2 linked regions of the Homo sapiens genome follow. The protein of the gene in region 2 purifies or fractionates together with the protein of the main gene of each other region. This does not show direct contact. Each region holds a gene or a part of one and is shown on either strand. Other genes may lie near its edges.

Region 1 (3,500 bases), on a different chromosome or scaffold from region 2:
ATTGCAGGAAGTGGCTGACTCCACAGAGTCAATCCACTTGCTGGAGGGGGTCCTGGTGAAAGAGTCTGAAAGACCACAAGAACTAAAAGAAGGAGAAAGAAAGGTCAACCACAAAGTGGCATTCGCCATGGTATTAACCAATTATTCATAGCACAGCCTGGGAAAGTGGAATGAACCTGCACGATGACAGCTGACATGCTGAGAACTTGATGCCCTGGGGGAGACTTGGCTGGGACAATGCAGCTGGAGTCCCTCCTCATGCCCAAAACCAAAACAGGCCACCCTCCTCTCTGCATCAAGGCGTGATTCCAGCAGCCAGGGCTATTCAAGTATTTCCTTCTGCAAAGAGTTGTCATCACTCCGCGCACATTTAAGCAGATCGCAAGCAGCTATTGACTCTGTTTTTCGCTGGTACCTCTGGACTGTCAGTTAATAACCTGGAGTTCATCTTGCACAAATTGTAGAATTGGTTTATGTGAAGCAGAGAAATGATCTCGAGCTAGATGTCAGCACCATATCCCCCGGCAAGTTGCTGCTCCTTTGATTTCAGAGATGTACCATGTAAGTCTTTAACAAAGTCCATAAGACCAGTCAGAAAAGATGAAGCAGTTAGGGGACCCAGAAGAAAAACTAAGTAGGCACAAAGGTGAGTTAGGAAACTGGTCAAATCCTAGCAAGCCCCAGGCTTCCATCGCAACCAAAGAAGTTAAGGAGGTGACTTTGTGACATCACTTTTTTCTTCTTTAGACAGAGTCTCCCTCTGTTGCCCAGGCTGGGGTGCAGTGGCACAATCCCACCTCACTGAACCTCCACCTCCTGGGTTCAAGCAATTCTCCTGCCTCAGCCTCCCAAGTAGCTGCGATTACAGTTGTGTGCCACCACGCCTGACTAATGTTTGTATTTTTAATATAGACGGGGTTTCACCAGGTTGGCTAGGCTGGTCTCCAACTCCTGACCTCAGGTGATCCTCCTACCTTGCCCTCCCAAAGTGCTGGGATTACAGGCATGAGCCACTGCGCCTGGCCAAGGTGACTTCACTTCTGCTGCACAAGCAATAAACCACCTGAAAAGAGGGTCTGTTTCCTAAGGATGCTATGCACAAAGATGTTCATTGCAGCATTATTTACAACAATGAAATATGGGAAGCAATGTAAAATCCAGCAATAGGAAAATGGTTAAGAAAATTATTCTACATCAATATGTCATTTTACACCCATTAAAAACAATATCAGACAGGTGCAGTGGCTCATGCCTGTAATCCCAGCACTTTGGGAGGCTGAGGTGGAATGATCACTTGCACCTAGGAGTTTGAGACCCACCTAGGCAACATGGTGAATCCCTGTCTCTACAAAAATAAAAAATTAAAAAAAAAATACAAAAATTAGTTGGGTGTGGTGGCACACACCTGTAATCCCAGCTACTCGGGAGGCTGAGCTGGGAGGATCATTTGAGCCCAGGAGGCTGAGGCTGCAGTGAACCGTGATTGCACCACTGCATTGCAGCCTGGGTGACAGAGTGAGACTCTGTCTCAAAACAAACAAACAAAAAACAAAAACCAACAATGTCTATGGAGAGGCTAAAATAATATTCATAAAATGTGATGTTTGGCATAAAGATAACAAAGCAGGATGGTAGCTGCTTGCATATATTGTGGGTCATAACTATGTAAAATATAAATGGAAAGAACACACATAGAAGTTTTAACAGTGGTGAGATCATGAGTGATTATTTTGCCTTTCCCTTTTTAAAGAATAGCCCACATTTTCCAAAATTAGCTTATATTATTTTTATAATAATATAAACCAGAGGTTAGCAAATTTCTTTCTGCAAAGGGTCATAGAGTAAATATTTTTGGCTTTGCAAGCCATACAGATTATGTTACAACTACTCGATTCTGCTGCTGCATGGAGAAAGCAACCATGCACAATACATTGTAAACAAATAGGCATGGCTGTGTTCCAATAAAACTTTAAATAAAAACAAGCAGGAGGTTGGATCTGTCCCATGGGCTATAGTTTGCTGATTCCATAAACCTCAATGAGACTTTTGAAAGTTATTCCATGTTCAGTGACATGGAATAATTGCCCTTTCATTAAGTACTAGCTATCACCCGGGGAAAGTTTTCTTCCTAATCACAGGGAGGTTATGGGTCCTTAGGAAACGGTCCAGCCCCTGGAAATTGCATTTGACAGGCAGGGTCAGAGACACAAGGCATAGCTGCTCGTGAGGAACAGCATTGCCTCTCTCTCCATCTCTCTGTCTGAGCTGTCACGCCCTTTCTCTTTGCCTAAGTTATTCCCTATGTCTCTCTGACCCCCTTGTACATCTCCCTCTGCCCCCAACTCCATCAGTTCCAGGAAGAGAAGGAAAGAAGATAGGGAACCTGAGTGGATTGTAGGGCCAGGGCTGGGAAGCTTGGGAAAGGGGGAAGATGTCTCTGTCTCACTTACATTGGATTCGAGGTCACCGGATGCAGGATGACCTGGGGCGCCCGGGTCGGCGTCTCCGGCACCGGCACCACATCTGAAAACCAGAGATTGAACACTCAGAAAAAAAATGTGAAGTCCACAACCCCCGCAAAGGCCTGATTCCTGGGCGACATGGCAGCCAATTTTTCACCAGATCTTGGATCTCTGCCCTTGGCCAATCTCCTTTCTCCTTTCCTGGACCACCTGGACTCTACCTGCTCAGCTGGACCAGGGTTCTGGATGACATCCTCAACAAAATTCCTCATTGTTGAATAGGGGGCTGCCAGAACCCTCAAATATCTAGCCTGAAGCATTCATTGGTCATCTCTGAATCTTTCTTTCTCCTGGGTTCCCTTTGGGATGATAAAGCCCCTTGGTTTCACATCCTCTCAGTACCCAGCTCAGGACCCTATGACCATCTCTTTCCTGCCACATGGCTCTAGACCCCTCCTCACCCTCGCCCAGTGTTCTACAGCACTCCACCCTCTCAGGCCTTTCCACGGTGCCTTGGGACCTCCTTGGGTCCCACTGTGCCCACTCTTTCTTCTCCACTTCCATGTTCAGCCATTATCCTGGAGTGTGGTGACTCCACTACCCTCTTTGATCTTAGGCACCCCCACAACATCTGCCTCCATTCATCCCAGAAACTCCTGCAATGCAGCGGGGCTTGTTCAGAAGGGGCTGCTTCCAGCTCACATGAAACTCACCTGGGAAGATGAACTGCTGCTTGTATTTGTAGTAGTGGGATGCTTGCAAAAGAAAGAAAACATCAAAGTGAGTGTCCCCAGGGAGACATCGCTTCAGGGACCAGATTGAGCTCTTACAGCCACCACATGGTCATTCTCTGCCCACCTTCAAGAGTTTCCATACTTCTGCAGACATCCCTGCAGACAAGGGACTGCAAACATGTGTAAAGAAACCAGAACTCTAAACATCCATGCCGACCCTCCCATCTGACATCTCACACTCCCTAAAATCAGACTGCTCCAACTCAAACAGACATTCTGACTACAATACCATTTTTGTGAAATG
Region 2 (4,285 bases):
CCCTCTGGCGGCCTCCTGAGACCAGCAGGTCTCTTGCTCTCCCTTCACTTCCTCTTTCACCCCTCCCAGCTCACTCTCCTTTCCGTTCATGCCTTGCGCTCCATGGCCAGCACAGGGCTAGGAGTGAGATGACAACCCGAAGTGCCGGCCCTGTGCCGTTTATGCCGTTCACTGGTTACCTGTTCCAGTTGGACAATATATACCCCAGCTCCTCCTGTCAACTTTCTGCCCTCTCTTACCACCACCACTTTCCGCACTTGCCCCAGGCTACTTTTTGCTTGGGACGAGCTCTCCACCTTTCCTCTCTCAAGCTTAGGCTCCAACTCGCAAGGTTTTTCCAAATCAAGCCCTTTCTCCTGACACTGGTGTCTGCAGCTCTGTCTAGTTTCATCACTTGCTGTTATTTTTCTATGCAGATTCCCAGTTCCCCAGACCCAATTTAGAACCTAAAATAGTTTTTTTGTTTGTTTTTTTGAGACAGGATCTCACTCTGTCGCTCAGGCTGGAGTGCAGTGGCAGTGGTGTGATCTCAGCTCACTGCAGCCTCGACCTCCTGAGTAGCTGGGACTACAGGCATGTACCACACTTGGCTAACTTTTTTGTAGATGAGTTCCGCTATGTTGCCCAGACAGGGCTTGAGTTCCTGGGCTTGAGCGATTCTCCCGCCTCAGCCTCCCAAAGTGCTGGGATTATAGGCAAGTGCCACTGCGCCCGGCTAAAATAGATCTTGACCAATGAAGTTTGTGACACCAGCTAATTGTACCTTCCTGACTTTCACTGCTTCTTCCACCGACAGGGGGCCTTCTTCAACAACTGATAGATTCTCCTCCCTCCCTCCACAAACGTTGGTGTCTTCCCATAGTGATATCCTTTGCTGAAAAATGATTTAGACCTCTCTCCATCCACCTCCCTGCCACCATCAAGCCCCATGCTTCTTACCTGGCCTCGAGCAATCTTGAAGGGTGTGGCATTCACCATGTGCTGCTTCCGGATACCACTCCACCTGGTTCGGTAGTCCACAATGTGGCAGGGGGGAAGAATGTACTCGTCATAAAGCACATCTCCGTTGTAGTTGACAATGCTACATCGAGCCAAGGAACTAACATGCCCCTTTGGTCCTGTGCCCACCATCTCACAGTCAATTGCCACCATCTTCCGTGGCAACTTCTGGGATGCTCCGGAGCATTTATTCTCTGAATGAGCTTGGGTGGAGTTCTGTGGGGCATTCTTCTGAGGATGGTTCTTTTTAGAGGATTTCTTCTGGGAGCTCTTCTTCTGAGAGCGGGTTGGGTGGCTATTGATCTTTGGAAGGGCACTCTGGAACTCCCCCAGCAAATCTACTTTAGCAGCAACAGAATCAGCCTTTTTTGAAGGGGCAGGGGTCAACCAAGACACTGCAGCTTTCTTGTCCAGGGGCTGTCCTGACCCATTGCTGGAAGCAGCTGTCTTCTTTTTTGGGAAGGAAGGGGTCTTCCAAGTGCCATCGACCGTAGGAGTTTCCCCTTTCTTTGAAGGTTCAGAGTGCAACTTAGGCGCCTTGCTAGGGGGTTGGTTCTTTTTACTCAGAAAGCCTCTCCGTTCTAAGAGCCTCCGCTTCTTGACAAAATTTCGGTGCTTGGCATTTCCTTCTAATGCCTTTTTGGGAGGAGGTTCCCCAAAATCCAGATTGAGCAGTAAAGTAGACATAGGGACAATGGAAGGCGGAAGAGTAGTTGGGAAGAGTGGCTTATGGATGAAAAGAGGATGTGGGACTCATTCTCTGCTGAATCCTACTGTCCAACATGTGGAGGTCTGTAGTACACCCTGGGGAAGAAAGTGATCCTGGTAATTGAGCTCCTAGGCCTGGGAGAAAAATGAGGTAAGCTCGATCTCCGTAGGACTTATGGAAGGAAAGACATCAGAGCAATCTCTCAGACAGAGGGGAAATGAAAACATAACATGAAATGATGGAGGGAGCATTGGTGTTAGCCAGCAAGCCTGGATTCTAGTGAAGCCCAATTCACCAGCCATTTGGTCTTAGTAAGGTCATTACCGCGCTCTAGGTTTGAGTCTCATTTGTAAAATGAAGGGAGTGGAGGGGCTTATAGAGCTCGAACCCTCTGAGTCTAAGAGGCTAGAACACGTGCGATCTATACTCCGCCTAGGAAAGGAACATCTAGGTATGCTCAAAAACAGTGAGAAGTATGGCGTAGATAACCTCTGGGCTACCCAGGCATCCGCAGCGTGGACCACCAATAGAGACACAAATCCAGGCATCCCTTTCCCTTGGCTCCAGGCCGGAATTGGGGGCAATCTCCGCATGCATCTCACCCAAGTCCTTCTCCCACGCAAGGACCTTGACACCATCTACCAGCGCGGGGGTGGGATCGAGGCTTGAGGCAGCCCACCTGGATAAGCATACTTCGGATCCCCGCGGTACAGATCGATCTCTCACGCTCACAAACCTACCTCCCAGACGGGTCCAGCTAAGACCGGAAGCGTCCGGAGCCGGATGCGGAAATCGGTGCGCGCCGACGAAGCCCGGGAAGGCAGGCGCGCGGGTTAGAACGCGCCAGAGGTCGGCGCGCGCACACCCGCACCGCCCCGACCCCAGGTAGTGAGGCCAGTGATTCCGAGTGTGTGAGGAGCGGCAGTGGCGGCGGAGGAGGGGGCGGCGTGGGTGGGGGCGGGGGCGGGATGCGCTCCCCGGCCCCTCTAGCCCCGTGGTGGTACAACGCGAAGGTGTGGGAAGGCCGCGATAAACCGGAACTGCAGCCCGCCGGACACCTCCGGCTTCACTTCCGTAAGAGGAGAGGAGTGTACGGCAAGGGGCGGGAACTGGAACTTGGCCCGCCTCGTTGTGAGCTGAGCTCAGCGGCACGCTTTTGTGGCGTCACTGCACTGTTACCCCGCCCTACGTGTCTCTGACGCTGACACCTTCTCACTGTGAAACGTCGCGACCTGTGACGTCTGGGGGGCGCCTCAAATCTTCCACTCCAGCATCGGATCCCGGAAAGGCAGCGTCGGAGACTGGACCCAAAACTCTTCCTGTTCTGCCTGCAGAGTTGAGCCCCGTCCGGGTCCTGGACCCGCGTAGTACTGACCCTGGATCCCTGTTCACTGCGTTCTCGCTCCCCGCGCTCCCTGCTGGACCCCGGGATGCCGGGCATCTCCGCCCGAGGCCTCTCTCATGAGGGGAGGAAGCAGCTAGCTGTTAACCTCACCCGTGTCCTGGCACTCTACCGTTCCATCTTGGATGCCTACATCATCGTGAGGCCACAGGGGCGTGGGTGGGATGTCTCTGGTCGTGTGGTTGGCTAGGTGCCCACGTCAGGGAGAGAATCTGGAGAATTAGCCTCTGATCTCTTTCCTTCTATGAGTTTCAGTCTTTTTCTGTACAAGAAGGGGTTAAAACTGGAGTGATCCCTCCTTTTTTTTCAGCTGACATAAATAATATTTCTTTTTTTTTCTTTTTCTTTTTTTTTTTCTTTTTTTTTTTGAGACGGAGTCTCGCTCTGTCCCCCAGGCTGGAGTGCAGTGGCACGATCTCGGCTCACTGCATAAATAATATTTCTAGTACCTACCTAGATTGTTTTTGTAATCTTCCCAGATCCAAGGTAATAAAATGCGTGGACATTGGAACCATGCTGCAACTATGTTGAACTCTTCTTGGAGCATGTCAGGTGTTCCAAGAACACACGTTATTCATCCAAGCTTTGAATAAATTCGTGGTTTTGTGGTATAGTAGACAGTCCTGGCTCTGGAATCAAAAAGGCTTAGTCTAGAATCCTGCCTCCCCTATGATGTTAACCTTAGGCCTCCCTAACCCCCAACTTGTCCTAGTCCGGGTTTCCTCAGCTATACAATGGATCCCAGTCTGAAGGATTATTGTGAAGAATAAATGAGAGAATGTGTAAATGGCACCACCATCCACTGAATTGTTTAGACCACAAACCCAGAGGCCATCATTGATTCAGTGCTGTCCTTCATTGATCCACAATCCAGTTCTTCAACAAGTCCTCTTGGCTCTGCCTTCGGAATAGATCCCAAATTCATCCATTTGTCCCCACCTCCGTTGCTGCCACCCTAGGCCAAGCCACCATCACCTCTCTTCTGAACTACTTCCTAACCGATCTTGCTGTGTGCTTACCTCTGCCCTGCCATTACCAATTCTTCACTGAGCAGCTAGATTGATAGCATTCAAATGTAAATCTGATCACGACAATCCCTTGCTTCCTAGATACTTTTATGAAATCCTAACTCCTTACTATTACCTATAAAACCCATATTCTGGCTCCTACTGTCT

Evidence for each region. The genes of interacting proteins can lie anywhere in the genome.
Region 1: the proteins of ISG20L2 (region 2) and KSR2 purify together in Homo sapiens (co-immunoprecipitation; one large-scale study listed by IntAct). This does not show direct contact.

What each region holds. Positions count from the first base shown.
Region 1 is NC_000012.12:117,528,491-117,531,990, forward strand, and holds part of KSR2 (kinase suppressor of Ras 2), read right to left. Parts: intron 3,218-3,500; coding exon 3,176-3,217; intron 2,524-3,175; coding exon 2,451-2,523; intron 568-2,450; coding exon of another isoform or gene 507-567; exon of another isoform or gene 56-506; intron 1-55. UniProt on the Homo sapiens protein: Location-regulated scaffold connecting MEK to RAF. Has very low protein kinase activity and can phosphorylate MAP2K1 at several Ser and Thr residues with very low efficiency (in vitro).
Region 2 is NC_000001.11:156,725,967-156,730,251, forward strand, and holds the start of ISG20L2 (interferon-stimulated 20 kDa exonuclease-like 2), read right to left. Parts: upstream 2,801-4,285; 5' UTR 2,449-2,800; exon of another isoform or gene 1,804-2,448; 5' UTR 1,687-1,803; coding exon 940-1,686; exon of another isoform or gene 1-939. Other genes in the region: METTL25B (methyltransferase-like protein 25B), read left to right, coding at 3,139-3,249. UniProt on the Homo sapiens protein: 3'-> 5'-exoribonuclease involved in ribosome biogenesis in the processing of the 12S pre-rRNA. Displays a strong specificity for a 3'-end containing a free hydroxyl group.